Homo sapiens: one gene and its partner. The protein of the gene in region 1 interacts with the protein of each later gene in a pairwise test. Each region holds a gene or a part of one and is shown in the gene's direction. Other genes may lie near its edges.

Region 1 (16,140 bases):
ACACAGCTCTGGCAGCTCCAAAACCTCTTTCTTTTCCCCTGGTTATCTTTCTTGAGTAAACTATGTAGCTTACTTTGTGTGGTGAGCCTTAGTTTAATAAACATTTTCAGTATAGATAAGAATAAATTACCCTGAAAAAGAATAGAAAGAAACATTAGTAAGCACCTGCTACAGAAAAGCTTGTTGCTATTTGGCTTTTCACTGATTCTGGGACAGAAAGACGTGATTCCTGAAGTGGAGTTTATGCCCATAAAGCTGGCTCTAAAAACTCTAAATTGAGTAGAACAAGGCCTGGTACACGGTGCATACAGAAAGATCCTTGTTGAATGAATGAATAGACCATATAATCAAAGGGCAAGCTTCAGGATGTTGTTTTTCTTCAATGAATTTCTCTTAACGTAAAACGTAAATGAAGGCGAAATTCTCTCTTCTTAAGTAAACTAAACTTGGAATATTCATGAGAGTTTATTTGACAGGGTGTGGTTCCCTGCTCTCTTCTTCTTTGTGCCTCCACATGTTCACCCCTGGCATGAGAGAGCCTGCATATTAGCAAGATAGAGTTGGGTTTCTGTGTAGGATGTTTACGAACGGGAACTTCATAGGATAGGGACAGCTAGCAATGATGAGCTGAACGGAGGCCAAGCAGGCCTTGAAAGGTAGTTGGATGGGAGCAAGAAGCGAGTATTTATCCCATCTTCTAGACTCCCAGGGTGTCCTTGATCAGCTGGTAGAAGGACCCTTTTTATTGATGGGCTGAGACTGCACACCCTTTCTGCCATTGCTAGCCACTCACAATTATAGAAATGCTTGCTCCTCCAGGTTTTGTTAAATGTGATCACATCTGCAATAGCAATACTGTTAATGACAACTACCATTTACTGAGTACCCGTTCTGTGAGATCCAAAAGTAGGAACCAATCCCTTAGCGCTCTCCTCCAGGGGGTTTCCCACTCTTTCAACCCCAGCACCCCCTGGTTAGTGCTCCCTCAGGCCAACACTTTGAAAAAACCTTCAAAACATAAAATTGTACTTGTGCACAATCTGTATTTTGTATTTGTCAAAACTGTGTGATTCCCAATTAGAATTTCTGGTTGACATGAGATAGCTGATGTTACTAACCAGCTGACTGGAGTTAATTCTAGCCAAAAGTACGGAGAGTTGATGACTGTCTTAATCCTTACAGCTTTGTGATAGAAAAGTCTTCTGAAAATTTGACTTTTGGGGGATACTGAAAATGACTTGAGGATGGCCATTCTTGTTTTCAGGAACTCTCTAGTGATTTGGGAACCTTAGTTCAGAACAATTCTTCTAGACTGACTTGTTCTTGCATTTTCATCTCAAACTTGGGGTACTGGCTTGAAGAGCAGGGTGGATGGGGTCACCTTGAGAGTTGAATAAGATCATCCAGTCCTTGTGCATTTTATCAAGGAAACCAACCAAGGAAGCTGCTGACATCGGGATGGCTGGACTTTCTAAAGGTGCCTTATTCTCCTGTTGTGATGGTGGAGGTGGGCAGAAGTTGTGTGATGACAGCCTCTGGAATCAGACGGCCTGGGGCCACGTCCTAGCTCTGCCAGTTTTAAAAAAACAGCTTGATCGAGGTATTATTTAAATATCTTAAAGACCAGCAATTTTAAGTGTACAGTTTAATGATTTGGGGGTTAATTTATAGAGCTGTGCAACCATCACCCCAATACAGTTTTAAAACATTTCCATGACCCCCAAAAGATTCCCCTTCCCCTGGGAAGCTGTGTACAGAGTGTATTTCAGAAAGCCTCTGCTGTTTAATCTACACCACGGAGGCACGGAGGAGAGTCTCAGTTCCATTGCAACCTCATGAGCACTGCATGCGAGCCTGATGCTCTATTTACTAGCTTATGTGTATGTAGTATTTTACTCATTCAGTTGACATTTCTAATAATGTATGAGGTTAAACATTCCACACATTTGCATACTAGTTGTATTTCTTCATTTAATTTTCTGCCCATGTCTTTTTTTTTTTTTTGAGATGGGGTCTCACTCTGTCACCTGGCTGGAGTGCAGTGGTGCGATCTCAGCTCACTGCAACCTCTGCCTCCTGTGTTCAAGCGATTCTCCTGCCTCAGCCTCCCAAGTAGTACAGGCGCCCGCCACTATGCCCGGCTAATCTTTTGTATTTTTATTAGAGACGGGGTTTCACCATTTTGGCCAGGCTGGTCTTGAACTGCTGACCTCGTGATTCGCCTGCCTCAGCCTCCCAAAGTACTGGGATTACAGGCATGAGCCACTGTGCCCGGCCAATTTTCTGCTCATGTCTGTTACTTCAAGATGTTCTTTGACCTTTGAGTTGCTCCCTTATGTCCTGCATCTAAGGCCTTGTTTGGACCCATATCAAGCTTGGTTTACTGACTTTATGTGTTTTCTCAGTGCTACCAGCTTTTCCATATTTGTTCTTGCCTCTGCTCCTCCTAGCTTTACTGTAGTGTTGTGGAGAGGGTACTCAGTGAACTTGGTTATTGCATTCTGTTCACTGTCTCCTCACCCACTTCAATCCCAGCCCCACTGCCCCACCAAGTACATGCACACTGCACTTAACTAAGTTAATTCACCTCCTTAATCTGAAGCCTCAGACCTTTCATCCACGGGCCCTTGGAGGGCTGCAGATGTGTTTTATTTTGTCTATGCGGTGTTAACATGGTTTCGGAGTTTGTTGCTTTATATTCCAGTTGTTATTTTCATAACATTTTTTATAAAAATGGAGACATGTCTTATTAGAAACTGGATTTTTTTTATCACTTAAAAAAAATCACAATTTGCCTACTAGGCCACAGTTCCACAGGACAGCTGGAGCTGGGTGGAGTGGACAGTTTCTGTTTCATGTTCTCCATGTTCCCTGTTCTCTATGTCCCACGAGTGGAGGCTTAGGGTCAGTCTCTATCCTTCAGGGTGTTTGTAGTGTCATTTCCTAAAGTAGAGCTGAGAGGAAAACAAGAAAATAAAAGCTAAATCAAGAGAGACAAGATTTCAAAGACAATGAAAGAGAGTGCATTTGTCTGTGGAAGTGAACATTATACCTGCTCTGTGTCTGTAGGGAAAAGTGTAGCACAAGGCCAGGCACGGTGGCTCACGCCTGTAATCTCAGCACTTTGGGAGGCCGAGGTGGCGGATCATGAGGTCAGGAGTTTGAGATCAGCCTGGCCAACATGGTGAAACCCTGTCTCTACTAAAAATACAAAAATTAGCCAGGCGCGATGACGGGCACCTGTAATCGCAGCTACTCAGGAGGCTGAGGCAGGAGAATTGCTTGAACCCGGGAGGCAGAAGTTGCAGTGAGCCGAGATCACACCACTGCACTCCAGCCTGGGCAACAGAGCAAGACTCTGTCTTGAAAAGAAAAAAAAAAAAAAAGTACAGCACAAAGTCCCTGCCCTGTTTCATGGACTTACATCACCTGCCTTCCACCACTGTGAGCATCTGAGTTTATGATCCCTGTTTTGGAGATCCAGTTCTCAAACTGTTTTTCTCTGCTTAGCAACTATGCAGAGTTGCTAGATGTATGGTAAGAATTTTTTTTTCTGGTTACTATTTATTGAGTTTTGAAAATCATGTATTTAGAAGTTTTACATCGGCATTAATGTTATTGCTATAATAATATCAGTCATTCAGTCACATTTCTCAAGTGGAGCAGAAAACAACAGCAAACATATGCTGGGGAAATAACATGTCTCCACGTTGAAGAATTTAATTTTTAAACGCTCCCATGTACTCTGTGTCAGGTCGGGCTGCTATAGAAAAATACCACAGACTGAGTGGTTTAAATGGCAGAATTTTGTTCTTACAGTTGTGGAGGCTGAGAAGTCCAAGATCAAGGTGGTGGCCCACTTGGTTCCTGGTGAGGGCTCTCTTGCCGGCTTATAGACAGTGGTCTGCTTGTTTGCTTGCTGTGCCCTCATGTGGTGGAGAGAGAGAGGGAGATCTCTTGTGTCTCTTCTTCTTCTTCTTTTTTTTTTTTTTTTTTTTTTGAGATGGAGTCTCGTTCTGTCGCCCATGCTGGGAGTGCAGTGGTGCGATCTTGGCTCACTGCAACCTCGGCCTCCTGGGTTCAAGCAATTCTCATGCCTCAGCCTCCCGAGTAGCTGGGATTACAAGCGGGTGCCACCATGCCTGGCTTATTTTTGTATTTTTAGTAGAGATGGGGTTTCACCATGTTGGCCAGGCTCCTCTAGAACTCCTGACCTCAGGTGATCCACCCACCCTGGCCTCCCAAAGTGCTGGGATTACAGGTGTGAGCCATCGCACCCAGCCTTGTGTCTCTTCATTTAAGGGCATTAATCTTACCATGAAGGCCCCACCCTCATGATCTCATCACCCCCAAAAGGCTCTATCTCCAAATATCATCACACTGGGGGTTAGGCCTTCAATACATGAATTTTGGCTGGGGCCAGGGGGTAGGTGATACAAGTCATAGCATCTTGCAAATAGAAAAATACACATTTATTTAAAAGCTTTGCTGAATTCACAGTCAGATATTGGTATGTAATTTCTCAATCTATTACATGGGGTTGGATATAGTTTTTGATGCTGAAAAGTAAAAGTGGGGAAATCTTGGTCTGTGACCAAGCACACAAATGAATTGCGGCTTACAGTTCTGGTAACGGAAGTCTAAATTATCCACCATCCAAAGAATAACTGCAGGATAAAATTTGTTTGAAGTTTCCAGATAATTTACATGCAATAAATTGCACAGAGCTTAAAAGTGTACAGTCCAGTGAGTTTTGATTAAGGCATGCCCTTCCGAACACATTGCTTATCAAAATATAGAACATCTTAATCAACCAGAAAAGTTCCCTATGACCCTTCTAGCCAATCCCTTCACCTCTACCAGGCAACAAGTGTTCTGATTTTATTTTACTGAAGATTATGTTTGCCTGTTCTTTAACTTCCTATAAATAACATCCTATGGTATGTACATGTAGAAGGCAGTTTCTATAATGGATCTCAATGATCCCCACCCGCTATGTTCACTCCCTTGTGTGATCTTTTCCCTTTGAATATGGAGTGGATCTAGGAACTTGCTTCTAATGCACAGAATGCAGCTAAAGTGATGGAATGGCCCTTCCGAGATCAGATTACAAGAGTGTGGCTTCTGCCTTCTCTCTCTGTCTGATTCTTCTCACTGGCTAGATCTGATGAAGCAAGCTGCTCTTGGGAGCTGCCCTGTGAGGAGGCCCACACAGCAAGGAACAAAGGAGGAGCAACCGGATCCTGCAACAAACAAGTGACTGGGCTGCTGTTTCCCCAGGTGAGCCTGGAGATGACGGCCACCTGGCTGGACTTTATTGCCACCTGTGAAAGACCTTGAGCTAGAGGATCCAGTTGATCCATGCCTGGATTCCTGACCCACAGAAATCATGAGATAATACATGGCATTGTTTAGGCAACTAAGTTTTGGGTTAATTTGTTATACAGAATAGATAACTAATGCAGTACTTTTCTGTGACTTCTTTTGCTTGACAAAATATGATTTATCCATGTTTTTGTGGGCAGAAGAGATATTCTCAAAGAGCTTATTAAAAGCATTAAACCTATTAAGATAGTCAAAAATTTCAGTATAAGAGAAAGCAGCAATACAGAGAGGTAAATTGAGCACTGAAGCCACATAAGCCCTGCATTTGCTGGACGGGGTGATGGGGAGCTTCAGTGGTGATGGTATGGGACAGAAATGAAGGTCAGGAAGAGTCTAATAGATGAACATTCCATAAGGCCGGGGTCCCAAAAGGTTTCTACATCCTCAGGGTAACCGTGGTCCAGAAGAAACATGCTCCCGGACTACAAGGAAATGCACCTTGGCACTGAGCAGAGGAGGTGGTGGTGGGTGGAGATGGCCAGAGAACCGTCCTATGGGTTTATCAACACAGGCCAGGGTGGGGTGTCATGGCAGACCAAATTCACTTCACCTGCATGGTTTAGAAAACTATGAATTTAGCCATGAATTTAATTTTCCAAATTGGAAGTTCCTCTAGGTATCTGGTAGAAGCAAAACCACCTCCTCTATGGAGGAATACAGCTTCATCAGAAAACCTCACAGAGAAATTTCCAAGCAAAATGGGATGTGCACAGGTGAAAATTATCAAGCACACAAGGAAACAGGGCACCATGAGTGAGACCTACCAGAGAGAGGAGACAGCAACAGAAAGGCTGATGTAGGTACTGGAATTGTTAAAGCCAGATCATAAGACAATTATGCTGAGGTAAAGAAAGTCAAAATTAAAAATATCTGCATGGAGCAGAGAACCATAAGAAGAAAAGCCTCAGTTTTGCAAAAAAGAAAAGGAACTTTTAGAAATGAAGTTAAGGTCATTAAAATAAAAACCACAATGGGCTGACTTAACAATGATCAGACACACCTGAAGAGATAATCAATGACCATGAAGGACAGAGTGAGCAGGTCGAATTTCTGACTAATCAGAGTCCTGAAACCATCTCTAAATACAGAGAAGGGAAAGACCAAAAACCACATAGAAAAACGGGCAGGAGAGAGAAAATTCACAAAGAAAACAGTGAAAATAGCTCTTAGGCTTAAGAAAATCTCTCCAACCTGGCTGATAAGATAATTTAAACTTAAAACAACATTGGATGCTACTTCTTACCTACTGGGTGGCAAAAGTCCCAAAGCTTGACAACATGCTTTACTGCTAAGGCAGTGGGAAAACGAACATGCTCACGTGTTGTTGGCGTGAATGCAAAATGAAGGCAAATCTGACAATATCTAGCATAAAGACGTATGAATCTATGTTCTGGCCAGCAATTCTGCTTCTAGGGTGAGCGCAAGGCTGTTGATTGCAGCACAGAGTGAGCTGAGAGTGAGCACAGGCAGAAATGAGAGAAGGCCAAGGACTGATCCTGTGGCCTCTGCAGGGATGACTTCAGTATCCTGGCTGCCCTTGCTTCAGTTGTCACACCCACCCTCCATCCCACCCCCAGAAGGACATCTTCCCTCAGCATCCAGTGGCCTTTTAAAAGCATAATTCAGAGTATAGAACTCTGTTTCCTAAATCTGTGCAATGGCTTCTGGTTGCTCTGAAAGTCCACACTCACCCGTAGGGCATGGCTCCTCCCTCCTGCTCTGGCCTTTTCCTCCCTTACTCTCTGTGGCCAGTCCCTCTGCTGTGTTGTCCTAGTGTTTTTTTTTTTTTTGAGATGGAGTCTTGCTCTGTCGCCCAGACTGGAGTGCAGTGGCACAATCTCAGCTCACTGCAACTTCCACCTCCCAGGTTCAAGCGATTCTCCTGCCTCAGCCTCCGAAGTAGTTAAGATTACAGGCATGCTCCACCACACCCAGCTAATTATTGTATTTTTAGTAGGTCTCAATCTCCTGACCTTGTGATCCGCCTGCCTCGGCCTCCCAAAGTGCTGGGATTACAGGCGTGAGCCACCATGCCTGTCCTGTCCTAGTTCTTATTCCTCAAATACGTGGATTTTTCTCACTTCAGGCATTGTACTAGCCGTTCCATTAGCCTGGAGGGGGAAACTCATCTTTGCGGAGCTGGCTCCTTTTCATTCAAATTTCAACTAAAAATGCCACCTCTTCATGGAATTCCTTCCTGAACACCCTCTCTGAAGCATTCCCTGAGTAGCTACTCAAACACATCATTCAATAGTGCTTTTTCATAGCACTGATGTTATCTTTTTTTTTTTTTTGAGACAGAATCTCACTCTGTCACCCAGGCTGGAGTGCAATGGCGTGATCTTGGCTCACTGCAACCTCCGCCTCCCAAGTTCAAGTGATTCTCCTGCCTCAGCCTCCCAAGTAGCTGGGATTACAGGTGCCCACCACCAGGCCTGGCTAATTTTTGTATTTTAAGTAGAGATGAGGTTTCACCATGTTGGCCAGGCTGGTCTTGAACTCTTGACTTCATGTGACCCGCCTGCCTTGGCTTCCCAAAATGTTGGGATTATGGGCGTGAGCCACTGCCCCATCTGATGTTATCTTATTTATCTGCTCATCATCTGTCCCTGCTACCAGAATCTAAGCTCCAAACCAGAGAGACCCTCTGTGGTCACTATTAACTTCCTAATGCCTTCAAGAGGGGACTCCACCTGGTAGGCAGTCAATACATAGTGCTAAATGTATGAATAATTGCCTTGGATTCTGCATCCTTTTTAACTTTCCCAAATTCAGGGAGAGAACTGTGGGCTGCCATTTTATATTTGTCCAGGCTTTGTTTTTTTCCCTTCATGTCCACCTTTTACTTTTTCACCAGCTCCTCCACAGTAACAAAAGCCTTATTCAAAGGCCTGTGAGTCAGAGGATTATGTAAAGAAGTTACTTTAATCTAGATGCCCCTGACTTGATGGAACACGTCCAGTGACTCCTGGAAGAAGATCTGGAGGTCTCCAGAGCAGCGTGGTCCCAGGAGGCATACACAGAGAGCCACGGCCAGGGCTGAAACAGTCTGTTGAGTGCAGCCATGGGGGACGTCCTGGAACAGTTCTTCATCCTCACAGGGCTGCTGGTGTGCCTGGCCTGCCTGGCGAAGTGCGTGAGATTCTCCAGATGTGTTTTACTGAACTACTGGAAAGTTTTGCCAAAGTCTTTCTTGCGGTCAATGGGACAGTGGGCAGGTAAGGGAGTGTTCCATCTCATGTTTTTTTGCTGCTGTTGTTCCTGCTTGTTACTATTATTATTATTTTTGAGACAGACACTTGCTCTGTCACCCAGGCTGGAGTGCAATGGCGCGATCTTGGCTCACTGCAACCTCCGCTTCCCGGGTTTAAGCAATTCTCCTGCCTCAGCCTCCCAAGTAGCTGGGATTATAGGCGCCTGTCACCACACCTGGCTAATGGTGTTTTTTTTTTTTTTTTGAGACAGAGTCTCACTCTGTTGCCCGGGCTGGAGTGCAGTAGTGCGATCTCTGCTCACTGCAACCTCTGCCTCCTGGGTTCAAGCAATTCTCCTGCCTCGGCCTCCCAAGTAGCTGGGATTACAGGCACACACTACTACGGCTGGCTAATTTTTTGTATTTTAGTAGAGACAGGGTTCCCCCATGTTGGCCAGGCTGGTCTCGAACTCCTGACCTCATGATTTGCCCACTTTAGCCTCTCAAAGTGCTGAGATTACAGGCGTGAGCCACCGCACCCAGCCAACGTTTTGTATTTTTAGTAGAGACAGGGTTTCACCCTGTTGGCTAGGCTGGTCTCAAACTCTTGACCTTGTGATTCACCCGACTCGGCCTCCCCAACGGCTGGGATGACAGGCGTGAGCCACCGCACCCAGCCCCTGCTTATTATTATTTATGTCTCAAAAGGGATATTGCATTTTTTTCTCTTTGAGAGCAAAGAAGTAATTCCTTTGGGTAATTTTAATTGGGGGGATTAGAAAAGTGTGAGTGAAATTAGAATGGTCTGCAACACAAGCTGTAGGGCATTAGGGGAACACTAGGGCAGAAGGCTACCCAGCCCTTGCTAAGCACTTATCCTCTCAACCCCATTAGATGAGTTTTCTTCTTTTGGGAGTTTCCTGCTAATACAAATAATAAATAATGCAGAAATTTCTGCATCCTCATCTCTAAATTTACAAAAAGCCCAGGGTGCTTTCACTTTACTAAAAGGTGTTTCCAAATTTTGAAATCTAAATAATTTTAACTCATTGTATTAAAAAAAGGATCCAAGTGTTTTTAAGAAATGAAGGTGTTACAAAATCAAGGCAACGCATAACTCTATGGAGCCATGTTTTCAGGATGGTATGGAATGGAATCTGGGTCTGGCTGGTGTCAATTAATGCTGCCTCCCCATGGGATTTATCTACTGGAACGCCCATGCAGAACTTCAGCCCTATGACTGAAGTTAAGGTGAAGAGCATGAGGCCATGGTTTCAGCATCTCCTTGAATATCTGAAATGCTAAAGTCTTTGCAGGGCCTTATATTTCAAATTTGGACACACACACACACACACACACACACACACAAAGAATCCAATGACAAAAATGATTAAGTGACTTTAGAGATATTATCTAGGCAAAATAGGAAAGATTCTAATATGCTTATAGGGCTGCCAGATAAAATACAGGATACCCAGTTAAATTTAAATTTCAGAAAAAAAGGAATACTTTTTTAGTATAACTCACATATGGCATGAGACATGCATTAAACAATTCATAATTTACCTTAATTTCAAATTTAAGTGGGCATTCTGTATCCTTATTTGCTAAACCTGGCAACCTTAAAAACTTAGCAATGGAAATTAAAAAAATTACCGTGTGAGAAATTGTTTGGGATGACAAATGGATTTTTGACTTCTGCGTCTTATATTTGCTGTGTGCGTGTGTGTGTGTGTGTGTGTGTGTGTGTGTGTGTGTGTGTGTGTCCTCTTGGGGTATTATGCTGTCAGGAGTGAACTTGCTTGAACTTGCTCAGCAGCTTGACCTGAGTGTTCTGGATTTAAATACCCCACTCCACACAGATTCAGATGCCCACGTGTGGGTGGACGTAGCACTCTGCACAGCTGCTGTCGTTTGTGTAGGGAAAGCCCTTCTAAAAACCTACATTCTAAAAGAAGTTCAAATGGGGACAGAGACTAAGAGCATTTGGTGACTCAAAGGAAAAACATGATCTTAACCTGTTTTTATGAGTCAAGATGGATAGAGTTACCTCTAGCAGGAGTAAAATATGTTTGGGCAGAGGCAGATATCAGGGAGATAATATATTTCAAGTAGGGGACAAAAAAGAAACGCAAGAACTAGAGGCTAAATTTTTAATTCCTCAGATAGAGTACCCTGAGCTCTGTGCTGGATTTCCTAATTCTTTTCTTAGTGTATATTCATAGACTCAGGGCCCCAAAGTCAGACAGCCTGGGTTCAAATCCTTGTGTCATCATTTTTAGCAGTGTGACCTTAATCAAGTTACGAACTTTTTCCCCTTGGCTTCCTCATTTATAAACTAAGGATAATGATGGTCCCTGCATTTTAGGTTTGTTTTGAACATTAAATGAGATGATGCATCTAAAACACTAGAAGCAGTACATGGCAAGAAGTGAGTGTGTGACCGTTATCCGTCGTTATTATTGATGGTATCATCTTGCCTGTAGTGTAGGCCCTGTATTGGGTGAATTGAAGATTCCCCACAGGGAGGGGAAGGTAAGGCCCAAGATGCCCTGAGCATAGTTCCTCCACCCAGAGCTGCAGACGGTGTGCATGGAGCCTCTTAGAAGTTCCTAAACGAACAGACACATCATTAGTAATTATTAAAGCCAGTGTGGTCCGTGAGGCTTGTACAGCTTGGCCTGCACTCACTCTCAGGTGAGCTAAATGTACCTTTTGTTCACACTTTTTGAAAGCATGCCCTTTAATTGTTGTTGCAAGGGTAAATTGTAAGTTTTACGATATACCGAATTGTAGTGAATTTTGAAATTGTGACGTTCTCACGAATGAAGCGTATACTAGAGCTCAATCATTAAATATGTCTGTAATGTTGATATGAAAGGACTAGCAGACCTATTTGACTGTTGTATATTAACAGATAGTTCTATTGAGTACAAATTCTTCAGGTTTCTTCATTTCACTGCATTTTCTTTTTGCATTTTGGTATTTTCCTCTTTGCTAAATTCCCTACCTTCCATAGGCCTTTAATTGCTGCTGTGGGGTGGGGGTGAGAAGTGGGCAGAGCTCCACTTTTAGAAGGAACCTTGAAATGTCCTTACAATGACAGATGGGTGCCTGGGCAGAGAGATAATGGGGAACACTGCCTGCCCTTGTGGGGTGAAGGCTCACAATATCTGCATCCTCATGGGGCCTGCAGGAAATGTTCCCTGGCTGCGGATCTGTTTCATTTTGGAACATGTTTTCCACAGTCTCGCCAATCCCTCCAAAACACCAACTAACCAACCAACCAACCAACCAACAAACCAACCAACCAACCAACCCACCCACCAACCAAACAATCCTTTCACCTGAATGTTTAGTGAGGGGCTTCAAGGGCGTGGGCTGGAGAGCAAAGGGATGAACCTTTGGAGTACTGACTGCCCTGGAGACTAGGCTTGTGAGAAAACGTGGCCAGTGAGAAAGAGAAGTTTAAAGATGAATTCTGTCTTTTAAAAGCATTCTTGCTTTTCACAGTGATCACTGGAGCAGGCGATGGAATTGGGAAAGCGTACTCGTTCGAGGTAAGCTATCTTCCTGGGGACTTTCTCCTCCCTTGTATTGAACAATCACAGTCCTGAGACATCCACCCCAACACTAGATTTTTGAATATAAAAGCAGTATGCATTCATTTAAAGGAGAAAATATACTCTATGGAAAAGCAAACAAAAATAATAATCTCACTCCCTGGATCTCTTTTTTTAAACACAATGATATTCAAAGGTGACAGTACCTTGCCTTAGGGATTGTTTTGGGAATTTGTGGGGCATTGGTATTTTCTAGTGTAATTGTGCCATATCAGCTTATATACTTTAATTTTTTCAAAACATTATAAACTACTTTCCTTTTATTTATTATTTACATTAAGCTAGGGCATATATTGATTTTTTAAAAGTCACTTGCTTAGGCAAAACATATTATCAGTGACTTTCATTTCAAGGACATTAATGGCATTATAGCATATTCTATAAAAAGAAGGTCTAATAGAACTGAGAGTCACTAGAATACAATTAGTATTTTTGAGTATTTGCTTCCACGCTTATTTCTCTGTAGATAGATAGATTGATAATTATACTTTAAAAAATGCATTTATAACATATGTGGTTTTATATGCTATTATAATTATAAATTTCACATTTTTATTAATGAAACATTGTTTCCTGGAATTCCTATGTATTTTATTTCTTCCTTATGCCTATTACACTGATGTCTAGAACCATGTCAAATACAATAGAAGAATAGAAAGAATTCTAGAAACTGTAAGAGGAAAGCTGTTTAAAAATCAATAACACCAGCTGGGCACGGTGGCTCACTCCTGTAATCCCAGCACTTTGGGAGGCCGAGGCAGGTGGATCACCTGAGGTCAGGAGTTCGAGACCAGCCTGGCCAACATGGTGAAACCTCATCTCTACTTAAAATACAAAAATTAGCAGGGTGTGTTGGCAGGTGCCTGTAATCCCAGCTACTTGGGAGGCTGAGGCAGGAGAATCTCTTGAACCTGGGAGGCAGAGGTTGCAGTGAGCTGAGATCGCACCATTGCACGCCAGCCTGGGCAATAGAGCAAGACTTTGTCTCCAAAAAAAAAAAAAAAAAAAAAAGAAATCAATAACACCTTAAAAATATAATGAAAAGCTTTTCCATTTGCAATAGAAAAATAAGTAATCCTAGAAATACAGTTAACATAAAATTTGTAGGTCTTTTTCAAGAAAACTGTAAAATTCCATTGAGAAATATGAGATATTCCAAATAAGAGAAAAAAATACCACATTCTTGAAGAGAAAGATATTTGAAACCTAACAGTTTCTCCTAAATTTATCTCAAATCCCAGATTATACATACCATTATTTTTTAAATGTTACATTAGTTGTGAGCATTTTCTTATGTCAAAACTGTGGGTTTTTTTTTTTTTGAGACACTTGCTCTGTTGCCCAGGCTGGAATGCAGTGGTACAAACACTGCTTACTGCAGCCTTGACCTCCTGGGCTCAAGCAATCCTCCCACCTCAGCCTCCCGAAGCAATGTGTCCTCCTGGAACTACAGGCTCATGTATTTTTTGTAGAGACAGGGTTTCACTGTTCCTCTGTTGTCCAGGCTGGTCTTGAACTCCTGAGCTCAAGTTATCTGCCTGCTTTGGCCTCCCATAGTGCTGGGATTACAGGCATGAACCACTGCAGCCTGCCGAAAACCCTGATTTTTAAATGGCAACATAATATTCCATCAAATGGATGGTCCATAATTTAACCATTTTCTTGGTAAAAATTTTAATTTTTTTCTGAATTTTTCTTCATTTTATATAAAATTGGGAGTAAATACAGAAACTTTTCTGCTTATATCCAATTATTTTGGGAGCTATTTTCTTGAGGTGGTCTTGCTGGGTTAGAGGTTGTGAATATATGTAAGGTTCCAGTGCTTTCCACTATGTTATAGTAATTACACCCATTTCTGAGACAGATGTGGTCTTCATCAGCTTCAGCTGCAGAATGAATTCCATAAGCTGAGTGGCCTAAGCAAGCATGTATTTCTTAGGGTTCTGGAGGCTGGGAAGTCCAAGAGCGAGGTGCCAGCAGATCTGATGTCTGGCAAGGGCTCTCTTCTTGGTTTGCAGACAATTGTCTTCTTGATGTAGCTTCACACGGCAGAGAGCAGAGAGAGGGGAAGCAAACTCTCTGATGTTTCTTCTTCTTTTACTTTTTGGAGACAGGTTCTTGCTCTGTTGCTCAGGCTGGAGTGCAGTGGTGCAAACAGCTCACTGCAGCCTCAACCTCCTGGGCTCAAGTGATACTCCCACTCAGCCTCCTGAGTATCAGGGACTACGGGCGTGTGCCATCACGCCTGGCTAATTTTTAAATTTTTTGTACTGACAGGGTTTCACCATGTTGCCCAGGCTGGTCTTGAACTCCTGGGCTCAAGTGATCTGCCTGCCTCGGCCTCCCAAAGTACTGGGATTACAGACATGAGCCACCATGCCTGGCCTGGTGTTTCTTCCCATAAGGACATTAATCTCATCGTGAAGGCCCCACTCTCATGACCTGATTACCTCCTGAAAGCCTTACCTCCAAGTGTCATCTCATTGGGGGTTAGGATTTCAGCATATGAATTTTGGGGGGGCCACAAAACATTCGGTTCATATGAAAAATGCATTCAACTACAGTACAGTACCCATGCCTTTTCTTGTCCCAGACGGCTTGCATCATAACAAAGCCATCTTATGTGAAACAGCAGTGCAAGGCATCTGGGACGCACTTGCTAGAAACTTGGCGTATGTTAACAAACCTCAAGCATGTCAGTTAAAAAAGCTCCTCGTGGGCTGGGCGCAGTGGCTCACGCCTGTAATCCCAGCACTTTGGGAGGCCGAGGAGGGTGGATCACCTGAGGTCAGGAGTTCCAGACCAGCCTGGCCAACATGGTGAAACTCCGTCTCTACTTACAATACAAAAATTAGCTGGGTGTGGTGGCGGGTGCTTGTAATCCCAGCTACTTGGGAGGCTGAGGCAGGAGAATTGCTTGAACCCAGGAGGTGGAGGTTGCAGTGAGCTGAAATTGTGCCATTGCACTCCAGCCTGGGGGACAAGAGTGAGACTTCGTCTGAAACAAAAACAAAAACAAAAACAAAAACAAACCAAAAAACTCCTTGTGGCCCGGTGTGGTGGCTCACGCCTGTAATCCCAACACTTTGGGAGGCCAAGGTGGGCAGATCATGAGGTCAGGAGTTCCAGACCAGCCTGACCAACGTAGTGAAACCCCGTCTCTACTAAAAATACAAAAATTAGCCAGGCGTGGTGGTGCTTACCTGTAATCCCAGCTACTCAGGAGGCTGAGGCAGGAGAATCGCTTGAACCCAGGAGGTGAAGGTTGCAGTGGGCCGAGATTGTGCCACTGCATACCAGCCTGGCGACAGAGCGAGACACCATCTCAAAAAAAAAAAAAAAAAAAAAAAGCTCCTCGTGTCTGACCCCCGTCCTTCATCTGCTGCTGATGATTTTTTGACACTGACCCTTCTATCTCATCTCTGTTTATTTTTAAGATAAGGAGTTATTTGCTTTTATTCTAATTCATGTATAGCAACTTACTGGTGAACAGGAGTGGCTGACACTCGGTAGATGAGTGGTCATATTTGAGTGTTGAAGTTGGAGAGACCACCCAGCAGTCACTTTTCAAAACAATGTGTCTTCCATTCCCCCAAATCAGAAGGAAAATGTTTCTAGCTATTTGCATTAAAACTATATAACCTTTTATATAACGATTTCTCACCCTGGACCAGGTTTTGGAAAGACCTAATATGTCAACCAAAAGGTTCTTCACCTTACCTCTAAGTTCCCTGGATTGCCAAGCAATTCTTCACGATTCTCCAGAATCTTTTCTCAAGTTCATGCTGACCTGACCTTCCTGTGGTCCCTTGCTATCGCAAGACTCAGACACTCTTCTTTCTGCTTAGGGGAGACCCCATGTGGAAGCTGTCCTTAGCCATTCATTTCTTTATTGTTTCACAAAGCAATGGCCCTGGGGGTCAGGAGCTGTGGGTTCCA
Region 2 (15,166 bases), about 34 Mb from region 1:
CTGGAGGCGGGACGAGGACTCACACGTGAAGCGAACTGGGGAGGAGGCACTTGATCAGATATCGTGGGGGTGGGGATTCTGGCTACAGCTGGGCCAGGCAGGCTGAAGAGCAGGGGAGGGGCCAGGGGACAGGTCGAGGCCAAGTGAGAAGAGGGCTCAGAGGAGCCTGTCTGAAGTCTGGGTGTGGAGTATGGGGGGTTTGGCAGGAGGAAGCTGGAACATCAGGCTGGGCACCCTCTCATGGACATCACCTCATGGGGGGCTTCTTGGGGCCCCTGCTATTGGCACAGAAGGGAGCTGGGGCCCCACAGTAATAACCTCTGCAGGGGTAACTGGATAGGCCCCCAAAGGCTCCCCACTGAAGCCAGTTTCCCTCTGCAAAGACCTTCACTGCCAGCCTTTCACAGCTGCTCACTGTGCTGGCGCTGTGCACAGCCTCCATCTCCTTAGAGCAGCCCCTGTGAGCCATCTGCAGGGAGGCCTTTGGGTGCCTTTTGTTTTGTCTTTATTGTTTTTAATAACCTTTTAGAATCACTCAAGTAACACAAAGTCATTGTGGATAAGTTAGAAGGTTTGCACGAAGAAGAAGTAACCATCTGACATCCAGAGATGTCTGGTGACAGTTGGGTGTGCCCCCACATGGGTCATTAAGTCCTGGTGCCAGGCATGTTCCCTCCTCTGCCCAGGGGCCCATCCTGGCCTGGGAGTCTGGAGTCATGGGCCAGGCTGAAACAGAAGAAACTCAAAAGAAGCAGGGAGAAGGCAGGTTTAAGGGCCAGGACGGGGGTGGCTGTGTCCCTTCCTCCTGCTGTGGGAAGGGACTTGAGATCCGTGTGCTTTGCTTCCTTCTTGCTTGGCCAATCCAAGCAGGGGCTCAGAACAGACCTCAGGGCTGAGCAGAGGCCAGTAGACCCTGAGAGTCCTGCCAGGCTGCAGGGATTCTGGGTGGGCCTGCGGACATCACATGCACGGGAGGGACGGATGCTGGGGTCGCACACTGGCCGGCAGGGCAGAGGACAGGAGAGGCAGGGCGGGCTCCGAGTCTCACGCATTGCTGTGGATGAATCTCCTGATCTCTCTGTGCCTCAGTGCCTCATCTGTGAAATGGGATGGTTGGGCCGACCTGCCGAGGGAACCACCCTCTCAGCACAGTGCCTGGGTTTGGGCTGCTATTATGGGCTGTTACAAAGGCCTGTGGTTCCTGAGCCAGGACCTACCTCCCTGGGCCTCTGGCACCCTTCAAGGTGTTCTGGGGTGGGGACAGGGAAAGGTGCAGAGGGCTGGCCTATTCACAGCCTCCTGCTTGCTGTGGGCACTGCTGGGACGGTCATGTGCCCGCTATGGTCTGACTCAAGAAGAACTGCCCTCCCTCCCACATCCTGCTCCCTCTTCTCTGCCCTCCCCCATCCTCCTCCTCCCCTCAACCGCCCTCACTCCGGCAGCAGCAGCCACAGTACTGGCAGGAGGCTGGGTGCCTGAGCTTCACCTTCCAGGCCGCAGAATTTTCAGGGTGCCACCCCTGGGTGCCCCACATGTCCCTTCACATGTGCCCAGGATCCATTCCAGCCCCTTAGATTCCTCTTCATTGGGGAGGGGGACGGTGGCTTTTCCATGTGCGTCCTCTCTGTATGGACCCTAATCAGAGTGCCGCGCGCACCATGCGCGGTACTCCCATAACCCTCTCCGATGTTCGAGGGGAGGGTGGAGGCTTTGTGTGGATCACATTAGAATGGGGGACAGTGGGACGTGTGAAAGTCTTCGGTGATCTGGCTTCTCTGAGCGTCGGCCTCTTCAGCATTCACCTTCGATCCCACCTCAGCTGTAGTCCGGGCTTCGAGGACTTGCAAATGTCTTCCTCTCTCTGAGCCTGTTTCTTCATCTGTAAAATGGGCTTCCTCGGCCGGGCACTGTGGCTCACGCCTGTAATCCCAGCACTTTGGGAGGCCGAGGCGGGCAGATCTCCTGAGGTCAGGGGTTCGACACCAGCCTGGCCAACATGGCAAAACCCTGTCTCTACTAAAAATACAAAAATTAGCTGGGTGTGGTGGTACATGCCTGTAATCCCAGCTACTCGGGAGGCTGAGGCAGGAGAATCGCTTGAACCCGGGAGGTGGAGGTTGCAGTGAGCCGTGATCCTGCCACTGCACTCCAGCCTGGGCGACACAGTGAGACTCTGTCTCAAAAAAAAAAAAAAAAGGCTTCCTCGTAGTACCTTCTCAGGGCCATTAGGGGCATCCTGGGAGAGTAAGGTGTGCAGAGTTCCCAGTCGCGTCAGGCCCTGCAAAGCTAATAGCCGGTGTTGGTGATAGATGACCTCTCTCTCTGGCTTCCCGATGTGGAAGGAATCGTCCTCTGAGGAGTGCGTGTCCTCCTGGGGGTGGGGCGGGAGGGGTGGTTAAACTGCCTACAGGAGCCAGTTTGTGAATTGGGTTTAGAACAACACATATTTAAGTTCACAATTCTAAAGATCACACTCTCGACTCATTTTTGTGCTAAGCCCTGTGGTTACATGCACCATGTCCCCTGATACCAACAAGAGGGGTATGAGAACCATCCCTTGTTATGGATGAGGAAACTGAGGCTCAGACAGGTGAGGGCGTTTGCTTGAGGCTGTACAGGCAGTGAATGGCAGAGATCTGTCCTGGGATTGGGAGTGCAAAGCCATTCCGGCGTCAGCCACGTAGGGATCTGGAGGGTTTTGTGCTGGGCACTGGGACTGCAGGGTGGACAAGTCCAGTTGGAACAGCCAGGATCCCCCCATGCTGTTTACCCAGTTCCCTGGGAACAGAGACTGAGGGGCAGGGTGTGGGCATGTGGGAGGAGCCACCTGCTGGCTCCATATGGTGGTCTACCCACCAGCACCAGCAGCAGCCCACCCAGCCTGATGCCAGGAGGGGCTCAGCAGAGAAGGTGGGGAGGTGGGAGGGTCTTGTGCAGGCATGCGGCTTTGGGGAGGCCATTCATGTGACTCTTGTTTTAGCCCCCTTGGGTGGAGCACAGGGCTGGGTGGCCAAGTGCTCACTCTGTGTGCAGTATCTGGGTTAATTCCTATGTCAGTTCGTAACCCCCTTATGCAGACGAGGCTAGGAGAGGTGAAGTCTGTATCCAAGGTCACACTGCTAGTGAGAGGCAGAGGTGGGACTGCGCCTGTGCCTATCAAGTCCATGGCCCCATGGGGCACCATCTCTTTGAACAAGGAGCCACAGCTTTCCTGGGCCCCGGGCAGGCGATGTTGGTGGTGGGTGGGTGATGTTGGCGTCTCCTTTACCCTCTCTGGCCCGGTCTGCTGCCTCCAGGTACAAAGGCTTCATCAAGGACTGCCCCAGTGGGCAGCTGGATGCGGCAGGCTTCCAGAAGATCTACAAGCAATTCTTCCCGTTCGGAGACCCCACCAAGTTTGCCACATTTGTTTTCAACGTCTTTGATGAAAACAAGGTGAGCTGGGGATTGATGGGGCCTGCGGCAGCTGGCTCAGCTCCTGTGGGTACCCGCAGCGTCTCCACACCCACTCTCTCCTGCCGATGTTCCCTTCTAGAGAAGGAACACACACACGAGTGCATACTGACATGCACAGATACATAGTCGCACATAAATGCATGCACATGTACACATGCAGACACACAATAAACACAGATGCATCCAAATGCATGCACATGTGTGCACACATATGTACACCCACACATGTACTGACATGCACATCCAAGCTCTCACACAGACGTGTATGTGCACATGCAGGCGAATACCATGCACACATGTGGGCACACATACATGGAGATGCAGCCACACACGTGAACATACATGTATATTCATACAGTGCACAGAAATGCACACATATGCACACAATGCATGGACTTGCAGGTGCACACACGTGTACACACAGAGAGACATATACACATATGCATATGTATACAGTGCACAACACACATGCATGTATACACATGTACACCCTGACACTTCTCTTACAAGCATAAAATGCAAATACCTCCCATGATAATAACAGGATTAATAATAATAACCAATATTTCCTGAACATTTACTATGTTTAAGCTCTTTACATGGATTTTTTTTTTTTTTGAGACAGAGTCTTGCTCTGTTGCCGAGGCTGGAGTGCAGTGGTGCAGTCTCAATTCACTGCAACCTCTGCCTCCCAGATTCAAGCAATTCCCCTGCCTCAGCCTCCTGAGAAGCTGGGATTACAGGCGCCGTCACCACACCTGGCTAATTTTTGTATTTTTAGTAGAGATGGGGTTTCACCGTATTGCCCAGGCTGGTCTTGAACTCCTGACCTCAGATGATCCACCCACCTTGGTCTCCCAAAGTGCTGGGATTTCAGGTGTAAGCCCCCTTGCCCGGCCATACATGGATTATTTTTAATGAGGCCTTACAAGCACCTGGGAGCTGGGTATTTTAATACCCATTTTGTAGGTCAGGAAACTGAGGCTCTGAGAATCGTAGGCTATAGGATCTTTTGTTCCTGGCGTTTTCCACTGAGCATCATGTTTTCAAGACTTACCATGTGGTAGCTTGTGTCACCTCCGGGCAGTGGCTGCACGGATAGCTGTTGGGTTATCTGCGATGACCCTGATTCTGTCCTGCAGTAGCATTTGAGGGTGGATTTACTGCCACTTGTCTCTGTACCCCCTGCTGCTGGCACCGTGGAGGTTTCTATTCTATCCCATCCCCAGCTTCTCCCAGGTGCCCCCAGGCTGGGAGTCACATGCCTGACCCTGGGAAGGGCTCTTCCCTTCTTGGGCCTCGGTTTCTTCATTTGCAAATAAGAGGTGGAATTAAACAACCTGCAGCGGCCTTTCCTCTGCAAAAGCCCATGAGCCCACAGCTCTAGGCCGAGGGGCTTCCGGGCTGTTGCTGAGAGGAGCTCAGGCATTGGTGCTTCTGGCACCTTCTCCCATCAAGAGTGGAGTAAGCCTCTCCGTTCAGCCTCAGTCCTTCTTCCTGTGCCTCCCTCCTGGCCTCTCCCACTTCTAACCCCCCACACAGTCCCCCAGCCTCTGCTCCCCACCCTCTCCTTGCCTCTCGCCCCCCATTCCTTCGAGCCTGCCCTCTCCACCTGAGTGTCCATTGGCCACAGTGTCTGGAGCCTGCGACTGCCCCTCGCCCGTCCCGAGGTTCAGCCTGACCCGGTGGCCTGGCCGGCACTGACTGAGGCAATCCCCTCTCTCTCCTGTCAGGACGGGCGAATTGAGTTCTCCGAGTTCATCCAGGCGCTGTCGGTGACCTCACGGGGAACCCTGGATGAGAAGCTACGGTGTAAGTCCTGCCCCCTTGGCCCTGTGTGGCAGCAGCTGGAGGGCCCAGGTCAGAGGGAGGCAGCCCTCGGCCCTCACCAGGCAGGGGTGCCAGACACCCACTGCAGTGACCACAGATGGCGTCCCAGCTGTGTCTGCAGAGGGCAGGCCTGGGCCCTGGGCAGGTGGCCCTCACACGGCCACGTAACTAGGCCAGGCTGACTGTCCAGGGTTCAGAGAGCAGCGCAGACATCTGTGCTTCCAGGTGGGAGGGTTTCCTGGAGGCACCGGCAGCAGGAAGGAGCTCGCTGAGGCAGGTGGACAGGGAGGGCTGGGGGCAGAGGCTGGCAGGAGCCTTGGCTGCACTCGGGCAGGTGCAGACTTGGGCCGCAGGAGGGTCGGTGGGGACCCAAGACCCAGGTTCAGTGCCGGACCCACCTCTTTCATAGCCATTGCTTTGATTCTTGCTTTCAGTCATTCACTTACTCACTCATTCATTGACCAAATAACGACTGAATGCAGCCACGTGTTGGTACCAGGGATCCACTGGGGGATAAGATAGATGGGTCCCTGCTCTCAGGGCGATCAGTCTAGAGTGGCAGCAGGATTTAAAAAAAAACCTCAGGAAACTGCAGGCAAGGAGGAGAGAGGGAGTTGTGAGCAGGAGAGGACCTGCCTGGTAGGCGCAGAGCTGGGGATGAGAGGAGCTGGGGATGAGAGGAGCTGGGGAGGGGGCGTTAAGGGCTCCAGCCAGGGGGCCCGCGTGTGCGAGGCCCAGTGGAGGGAGGCTGAGAGGGAGTTGGGAGGGGAAGCTGTGCAGGCCCCTGGCGGCATTAGGAGGAATGCAGGGTGCGTGGAGGGGAGGGAAGATGGAAACCAGCTGGCCAGAACTCCCTGCTCAGTAAGACTTTCACACTTCAGTCCATCGGCAGCAAGAAGACCCTGCAGTTTCTTTTTCTTTTTCTTTCTTTCTTTTTTTTTTTTTTAAGAAATAAAAGAGAACTTTATTTATGCAAAAGCTCCTCCTCTCAATGCACTATTTTATTTTCTAATGTTGACTGTAGCAGGCCACACCATAATTGTGGGAGCAGAGTGGACTGTGGGGAGGAGGTGGGGGCTGGAGTTGGGGGAAGGAGAGGGGTGCTCCTCTGGGTAACATCCCAGGCCCCGGGCTCTCCCACGCACTCAGCTCCAGCCACTGATACCTCGGCCCTGGCAGCCCAATGCCCCATCCCTTTATTTTATTTGTTTATTTATTTATAGACAGAGTCTCGCTCTGTTGCTCAGGCTGGAGTGCAGTGGCACAATCTCGGCCCACTACAATCTCTGCCTCCTGGGTTCAAGCAATTCTCCTGCTTCAGCCTCCCAAGTAGCTGGGATTACAGGCATGTGCCACCACACCTGGCTAATTTTTGTGTTTTTAGTAGAAATGGGGTTTCGCCATGTTGGCCAGGCTGGTCTCGAACTCCTGACCTCAGATGATCCACCCACCTTGGCCTTCCAAAGTGCTGGAATTACAGGTGTGAGCCACCGTGCCTGGCCCTGTTATTTTTAATATATATATATATAAAATATTTAATATATATATAAAATATCATATATATATATATATATATATATATATATATATATAGAGAGAGAGAGAGAGAGAGAGAGAGAGAGAGAGAGAGAAAGAGAGAGTCTTGCTCTGTCACCCAGGCTAGAGTGCAGTAGTTCGATCTCGGCTTATTGCAACCTTCGCCTCCTGGGCTCAAGCCATCCTCTCACCTCCTCCCAAGTAGCTGGAACTACAGGCGCCCGCCACCACACCTGGCTAATTTTTGTATTTTTAGTAGAGAAGGGGTTTCATCCTGTTGGCCAGGCTGTTCTCCAACTCCTGACCTCAGGTGATCTGCCCGCCTCGGCCTCCCAAAGTGCTGGGATTATAGGGGTGAGTCACTGTGCCTGGCCCTGTTATTTTTAATTTATAAATAAATAAATATATATATACACATAAATATAAATTATGTATATATAAATATATATACATAAATATAAATTATGTATATATAAATATATATACATAAATATAAATTATGTATATATAAATATATATACATAATACATAAATATAAATTATGTATATATAAATATATATACATAAATATAAATTATGTATATATAAATATATATACATAAATATAAATTATGTATATAAATATATATACATAAATATAAATTATGTATATAAATATATATACATAAATATAAATTATGTATCTATAAATATATATACATAAATATAAATTATGTATCTATAAATATATATATGTGTGTGTGTATATATATATACGTATATATATATGTGTATATATATATACGTATATATATATGTATATACAGAGAGAGAGAGGGAGAGAGACTTGCTCTGTCACCCAGGCTGGAGTGCAGTGGCTTGATCTCGGCTTATTGCAAACTTCGCCTCCTGGGCTCAAGCCATCCTCCCACCTCAACCTCCCAAGTAGCTGGAACTACAGGCACCGCCACCAGGCCTGGCTAATTTTTGTATTTTTGTAGAGACGGGGTTTTGCCATGTTGTCCAGGCTGGTCTCGAACTCCTGGGCTCAAGCAGTCTGCTCACCTCAGCCTCCCAAAGTCCTGGGATTACAGGTGTGAGCCACCATGCCCAGCCTTATTTTTTTTAACCCTAGTTGCAATGGTGTGTGTGTGTCTGTCCCTGTCTATCCTGATGTAAATATTAGTTGACCTGATGAGGAATGGGCCATCCGGTCGCTGACTTCATGTTGGGGTACAGAGAGGAGGGGCGAGTTGAAGACCCCTCCCCACTGCCCCAGCCCAGGATCACTCAGCAGTGCTGCTTGCTTACAGGGGCCTTCAAGCTCTACGACTTGGACAATGATGGCTACATCACCAGGAATGAGATGCTGGACATTGTGGATGCCATTTACCAGATGGTGGTGAGAAGCCGGGTCTCGTGTGGTTAGGGGTGGCAGGAGGGGCAAAGCCAGTGACTGAGAGACAGAGAGAGAGCACTTGTGCAGCCATGCTCCTGCCCAGGGTGGAAGCAGGGGTCACTGGCTGAGCCGTTCTGTACATCTCTGCCTGGGCAGGCAGGCACAAGCTGGTAGATAGTGGGGCTGGGGTGTGGGATGTTCCAGGGCACAATGGCAGGGATGGGGAGGGGAAAGAAGAGGGGGGCGGCCCTCATCTGGAAACTGCCAGGTCTGGGGGGCAAATGCGTGGCCAAGAGCCCAAAGCCCAGAGTGCCAGGGCCCACCCCCGCCTTGTCCGTCCCTGCAGGGGAATACCGTGGAGCTCCCAGAGGAGGAGAACACTCCTGAGAAGAGGGTGGACCGGATCTTTGCCATGATGGATAAGGTGAGGTGGGGGGGCGGGGCTGGTCCTGGACCAGGGAGGCAAGGTGTCGGGGGCAGGAATTGGAGTCCCTGGATCCTGGGCCTGGCTTTGCTGCCAACCTCCTCCATGGCTCACGGCAGGCGGCACGGTGTCCTATCCCTGCTCAGCAGCTAGCCCCATCCAGTGTCCAGAGTCTTAAGTCAGTTTGCTCAGCATGTTTTCTTTAATCAACCAGAGTCCTTAGCCTTTTTTTTTTGTTTGCCATGGACCCCTTTGGCATTCTGGAGAAGCCTACAGACTTCTCAGCATAATGGCTTTAAGCGCATAAAATAAAATCCATAAGATCAAAAAGGAAGCTGATTATTTTAGAAAACAGCTGTCAGAGTATTTTAAAAAAAGAATCTGTGATGTAGCGTTCTGTGAGCTGCTTTCTTAACGCATTCACTAAGATGTAGTGGTGGGTCCAGCAACCCCCGAAATTGCGAGCTGTAATATCTGCAGCAACTAGGGTGTGTTATGAAAATACCTGTGATCCCTACTGTCGACAGATCACAGGTACTGCAGGTCCTGTTGGGGACCGTCGCCTAGGTTTCCATCAAAGGAAAAGCTACATTTCAGTTAGAGGTTAGTAAAAAAAGGCTGATTTTTTTTCCCCCAAGTTCATAGACCTGCTGACTTCTATCCACAGGCCCAAGGTTAAGAAACCCTTCTCTTTTTTTTTGAGACAGAATCTTCGCCCTGTCACCCAGGCTGGAGTGCAGTGGCGGGCGCGATCTCGGCTCACTGCAAGCTCTGCCGCCTGGGTTCACGCAACTCTCCTGCCTCAGCCTCCCGAGTAGCTGGGACTACAGGCGCATGCCACCATACCTGGCTAATTTTTTGTATTTTTAGTAGAGACGGGATTTCACCGTGTTAGCCAGGATGGTCTCGATCTCCTGACTTCGTGATCCACCAGCCTCGGCCTCCCAAAGTGCTGGGATTATAGGCGTGAGCCACCGTGCCTGGCCAAGAAACCCTTCTTTAAAGGGAACCAAAGCCAGGTGTGGTGGCTCACACCTGTAATCCCAGCATTTTGGGAGGCCGAGGCGGGTGAATCACCTGAGGTCAGGAGTTCGAGACCAGCCTGGCCAACATGGTGAATCCCTTTCTCTACTAAAAAAAAAAAAAAAAAAAAATCCGGGAGGCAGCAGTTGCAGTGAGTGGAGATCGCGCCATTGCACTCCAGCCTGGGCAACAGAGTGAGACGCAGTCTCAAAAAAAAAAAAAAAAATTATCCAGGCATGATGGCACATGCCTGTAATCCCAGCTACTCGGGAGGCTGAGGGAGGAGAATTGCTTGAACCTGGGAGGCAGAGGTTGCAGTGAGCCGAGATCACACCACTGCACTCCAGCCTGGGCAATAAGAGTGAGACTGTCTCAAAAGAAAAAAAATAAAATAAAAGGAACCATAGACACTGGAGCCTACTTGAGGGTGGAGGGTGAGAGGAGGGTGAGGATCGAAACCCACCTATTATCAGGTACTATGCTTATCACCTGAGTGACAAAATAGTCTGTACAGCAAACCCCCACAACACAGGATTTACCTATATAACAAACCTGCACATGTATCCTTGAGCCTAAAATAAAAGCCTAAAAAAAGGGACTCCAAAGAAATAAGGAATCCTTCTTTAAATCAAACTTACTTAAAACTAAAATAACTTAAATGTAAATTTGAAATAATGACGTTAGGGAAATCCAGGTGTTACGTGCCTTCAGCAAAATAACATAAAATGGTCAGGTGCGGTGGCTCACACCTGTCATCCCAGCACTTTGGGAGGCCAAGGCGAGTGGATCACTTGAGCTCAGGAGTTTGAGACCAGCCTGGGCAACGTGATGAAACCCCGACTCTACAAAAAATACAAAAATTAGCCGGGTGTGGTGGTGTGCACCTGTGGTCCCAGCTACTCGGGAGGCTGAAGTGGGAGGATGGCTGGAGCCTGAGAAACCAAGTCTGCTGTGAGCCGTGATGGTGCCATTGCACTCCAGCCTGGGTGACAGAGTGAGACCCTGTCTCAATCAATCAATCGATCAGTCAATCATAGAAATTCCTGTAACGCAGGGCTGCTTATTAGATTCTGGCTGGAGACAGCTGTTTGCCCTAAAAGCTTTGACCTGAGGCCTGTACTTTCTTAATTAAAAAAGGGAGATTAGCCCATGTTAGAGGAGTGGTAGAGACGTGCTGGCCTCAGACCCAGCTGGCGTCTTGGTAATGATCAAAAGATTTATCGACAGAGTGTGGAGCACGGAATAATAAGTTTCTCGTGGTGTGCGTCCACGTGGCTTAAGGCCAAGGCCGCACATTCCTTACTGTCCCCCTGTCTGCACTTCCGTCATTTTGGGAAACAGCACAGACCCTGTAGTCACACTGACTGGGGTGTGAATCTGACTTCTCCGTTTCCCAGCCCTGGGGCCTGGGTAGGTGACGGAGCCTCAGCTTCCTCACTGGTAAAATGGGGATGAGAGCAGCACCCCCTTCTTGGCTTGGCCGTGAGGGTTCCATACACTGAGGGTTGCGCCGAGCTTGGCATATGTCGTGTACGCAGCGAGCGATCCCTGAGCACAGCTCGGTTGTGCTCATCGGCGCTGTTTTCGGCACTTACCCTCTCTGGATACCCGAGATCGAGTAGGTGCTCTCCGTGGCCTTTTCCTTGTGGTCCGCCGGCTTCCTTGAGAGATGCTCCGGGGAAGGGATTCTGGCCCAAACATCCCCTCCCCGAGAGACCCACTAAAATTCCTCTTTCTGAGCCATGTCCAGCCCCCTGCCGGGTCTCCCAGGGTCCAGTGTGGGCTGCTCCAGGAGCAGTTTAAATGCCCTTCCAAGAGTGACCCCAGAGAACTGCACGAGGCTCTCAGCCTTGTCAGTTACTCACATTGATGGGGTTTAATAGCATTAACCATGACACGTGTGGAGTTACAGGGCACTTCCAGTTGGTCAAGCACAGAGCTGTCACCCGAGTGCCTGGAGGAAGCCAGGTAATTACCCTCCATCCCCAGGTGAAGAAACATGCCCAGAGAGGTGGGCCACGGCCCAAGGCCACCCTGCCATGAGTGCCGAGGTCTGTCTGGTGCTGGCTGCTTGTAGGCCCTGAGCCACGTTGCCTCCCTCCTGATCTAACCTTGGAAGGGCTCTTGGGACCGGCCCTGGGCTGGGCTTGTCTAGAGCCCTCTCCTGGGAGGCCCTGCACCCTCAGCCGCCTCTCTCTGCTCACAGAATGCCGACGGGAAGCTGACCCTGCAGGAGTTCCAGGAGGGTTCCAAGGCAGACCCGTCCATTGTGCAGGCGCTGTCCCTCTACGACGGGCTGGTATAGTCCCAGGCTGGAGCTGGGTGAGTGCAGACTCGGGGCCTGGGGTGGGTCTGGGATGGGTCAGGGGTGAAAACCCAGCAGCAGGACACCTACGGTTGGCAGGTAATTACCTGGGTCTCTGGGGGTGTTGTGGTCAGCCTAGCAGGGACATAGCTGGGAGGAGGAGGCTGGAAGGGGGGCCTTCAAATTGGTCAGAGCTCCTCTGTTTTGATCATTTTTATAGACCCAGATCAGCCTGCGAGTTTGCTTGAACAGAATTTTTCTGGGCGCGGTGGCTCACGCCTGTAATCCCAGCACTTTGGGAAGCTGAAGCAGGCGGATCACCAGGTCAGGAGTTCAAGACCAGCCTGACCAACATGGTGAAACCCCGTCTCTACTAAAAATACAAAAATCAGGCGGGCGTGGTGGTGCGCACCTAGTCTCAGCTACTTGGGAGGCTGAGGCAGGAGAACCGCTTGAACCCAGGAGGTGGAGATTGCAGTGAGCCGAGATCGTGCCACTGCACTCCAGCCTGGGTAACAGAGTGAGACTCCATCTCAAAAAAAAAAAAAAAAAGAAAAGAAAAAAAAAAAAAGAAAAGAATTGTCCTGGGTGGAAGACACTTTGAAAATTAGTTCCCAACCAGGGCCAGGGACCTGGGAGAGCAATTTCTTATCCCCTCTCTGAGCAGCCGGTTGAAGACCTAACTAAGCTCCTAGCTGTCACAGAATGATAGCACGCCTGGCAGAGGCCCCTGTTGCTGGTAGAGAGCTGTCTCCCTTCTTTCCTTCTCCTCTCCTCCCTTCTCCCCTTTTTTCCTGCCTCTTCTTTGTGGAGTGTTCAATGTAGTCTGCGGGGAGTGGGTGTGAATAACGTCCAAGGTATTGTCCAGAGATCAGCGTTCTTGTCCACGTCCTGGTGAACCAGTGGATGCCTGCTGTTGGTGTATATGTAAGGGTAGAATTGCTGGGACATAGGATATGTGTAATATTTAGCTTTGGTAGTTACTAGAAAACAGTTTCCAAAGTGGTTGTGCTGTTTTGCGGTCCCACTAGTAGTGTATGAGAGTTCCAGTTGCTCCACATCCTTGCCAACACTGGGTATTTTCTGTCTTTTCAAATTTTAGCCATTTTTGTGAGTATGGAGTAATAACTTGTTCTAAGTTTACTTTGCATTTCTCTGATAAGCAGTGACGTTGAATGCCTTGTTATAAGTGTATCACCCATTTTAATGTGCTCATTTGTGATGTGCTAGGTTAGTTATCCATTGCTACATATTACATTACCACAAACAGCAGCTTAAGAACAAACATTAGGAATTTGGCACAGTTAAGCTGGGTGCCTCTGGCTCAAGGACTCTCAGGAGTATGCAGTTCAGCTGTCAATAGGGTTTGCCCAGGTCTATCCTGGATTTAGCAGTGCAAGTTCCCTGTTCTAGGAAACTTCTCAGTCCCGGGAAAATTGGGATACTTGTCAGCCATTGGCCAGGGCTGTGGTCTCATCTGAAGGTTTGGCTGGTGATGACCTGCTTCCAAGCTCACTCATGTGGTTTGGCAGCCTTGTTCCCTTGCCATGTAGACACCTGCACAGGGCTGCCTCACAATATGGCTGCCGGCTTCCCTCAGAGCTTTCCAAGAGAGAAGGAGAGAAAGAGAGCCAGGATGAAAGCCAGTGTCTTTTTATAGCATAATCTTGGAAGTGATATCCATCACTTTTTCTTTTTCTTTCTTTTTTTTTTCTGCGACTGGGTCTCACTCTGTTACCCAGCCACCAGGTCATGGCTCACTGCAGCCTCAACCTCCCAGACTCAGACGAGCCTCCCACCTCAGCCCTCAGCTTTCCAAGTAGCTGGGACTACAGACATTTGCCACCATATCTGGCTAATTTAAAAAAAAAAGTGTTTTTTTTGTTTGTTTGTTTTGTTTTGTTTTTTTTCTGTAGTGTAGAGATAGAGTCTCACTATGTTGCCCAGGCTGGTCTGGAACTCTTGACCTCAAGTGATCCTCCTACCTCGGCCTCCCAAAGTGCTGAGATTACAGGTGTGAGCCACTGCACCCAGCCATAGATTGGTTTTTGAATGCTAAGTCACCTTGCATTCTTAGAATAAACTCCACTTTGCTGTGATGTGTTATTTTTTTATGTATCATAAAATTTGATTTGTTGGCATTTTGTTTAGGAGGTCTACACTGTTTTTTTCTTTCTTTCTTTCTTTTTTTTTTTTTGAGACAGGGTCTCACTCCATCACCTAGGCTGGAGTGCAGTGACATGATTTCAGCTCACTGCAGCCTCTGCCTCCTGGGTTCAAACAATTCTCCTGCCTCAGCTTCCCGAGTAGCTGGGACTATAGGCACCTGCCACCATGGCGCCTGGCTAATTTTTCCATTTTTAGTAAAGATGGGGTTTCACCATCTTGGCTAGGCTGGTCTCGAACTCCTGACCTCAGGTGATCCACCCACCTCAGCCTCCCAAAGTGCTGGAACTGCAGGCGTGAGCCACCATGCCTGGCCAGGCCTACACTGTTTTGAAGCGTCTGTTATTATTATTATTATTTTTCACAAGAAATCCTTTTTCATTGAAGAGACATTGAAAATATGTTTAATGAGAAAACCTCAATTAAAAAGTTTATTTTAAAAAAAACCCCTTATGTATGACTCAGATATAATCACAGTGAACATTTTAGTGTCCAGAGTGATTTTAAAAGAATTGAACACTTACAAAACTTAACACTCAGTAAACTGAGTCACACAGAAATTATATAATTAAAACCAATTTATAAAGGAACTATCACTGTTATTAATATTTCTTTTTTTTTTTTTTTCCAAGATGGAGTCTCCCAGGCTGGAGTGCAGTGGCGTGATCTTAGCTCACTGCAACCTCTGCCTCCTGGGTTCAGACAATTCTCATGCCTCAGCCTCCCAAGTAGCTGGGATTACAGGTGCTTGCCACCACGCCCGGCTAATTTTTGTACTTTTAGTAGAGATGGGGTTTCAGCATGTTGGACAGGCTGGTCTCGAACTCCTGACCTTGTGATCCACCCACCTCAGCCTCTCAAAGTGCTGGGATTACAGGTGTGGGCCATCGCGCCTGGCCAATATTTCCATCATAGAAATGTTTGACGTGTACCTTGACATGTCCCATGGTGAATGCTGATCCGTTGTCTAATTTTTCACAGTCCTCTTTTGCAAATCACCATGTCATATTATTTCCATGACAAGCTTGTCAAAGTGACAAGAGCCCTC

Evidence for each region.
Region 2: the proteins of HSD17B3 (region 1) and NCS1 interact in binary tests that used the Homo sapiens proteins (3 or more experiments, as listed by UniProt).

What each region holds. Positions count from the first base shown.
Region 1 is NC_000009.12:96,294,414-96,310,553, reverse strand, and holds the start of HSD17B3 (17-beta-hydroxysteroid dehydrogenase type 3), read left to right. Parts: upstream 1-8,377; 5' UTR 8,378-8,449; coding exon 8,450-8,603; intron 8,604-12,091; coding exon 12,092-12,138; intron 12,139-16,140. UniProt on the Homo sapiens protein: Catalyzes the conversion of 17-oxosteroids to 17beta-hydroxysteroids. Favors the reduction of androstenedione to testosterone. Testosterone is the key androgen driving male development and function. Uses NADPH while the two other EDH17B enzymes use NADH.
Region 2 is NC_000009.12:130,214,536-130,229,701, forward strand, and holds part of NCS1 (neuronal calcium sensor 1), read left to right. Parts: intron 1-3,296; coding exon 3,297-3,435; intron 3,436-5,189; coding exon 5,190-5,268; intron 5,269-8,114; coding exon 8,115-8,203; intron 8,204-8,546; coding exon 8,547-8,624; intron 8,625-11,853; coding exon 11,854-11,952; 3' UTR 11,953-11,969; intron 11,970-15,166. UniProt on the Homo sapiens protein: Neuronal calcium sensor, regulator of G protein-coupled receptor phosphorylation in a calcium dependent manner. Directly regulates GRK1 (RHOK), but not GRK2 to GRK5. Can substitute for calmodulin. Stimulates PI4KB kinase activity.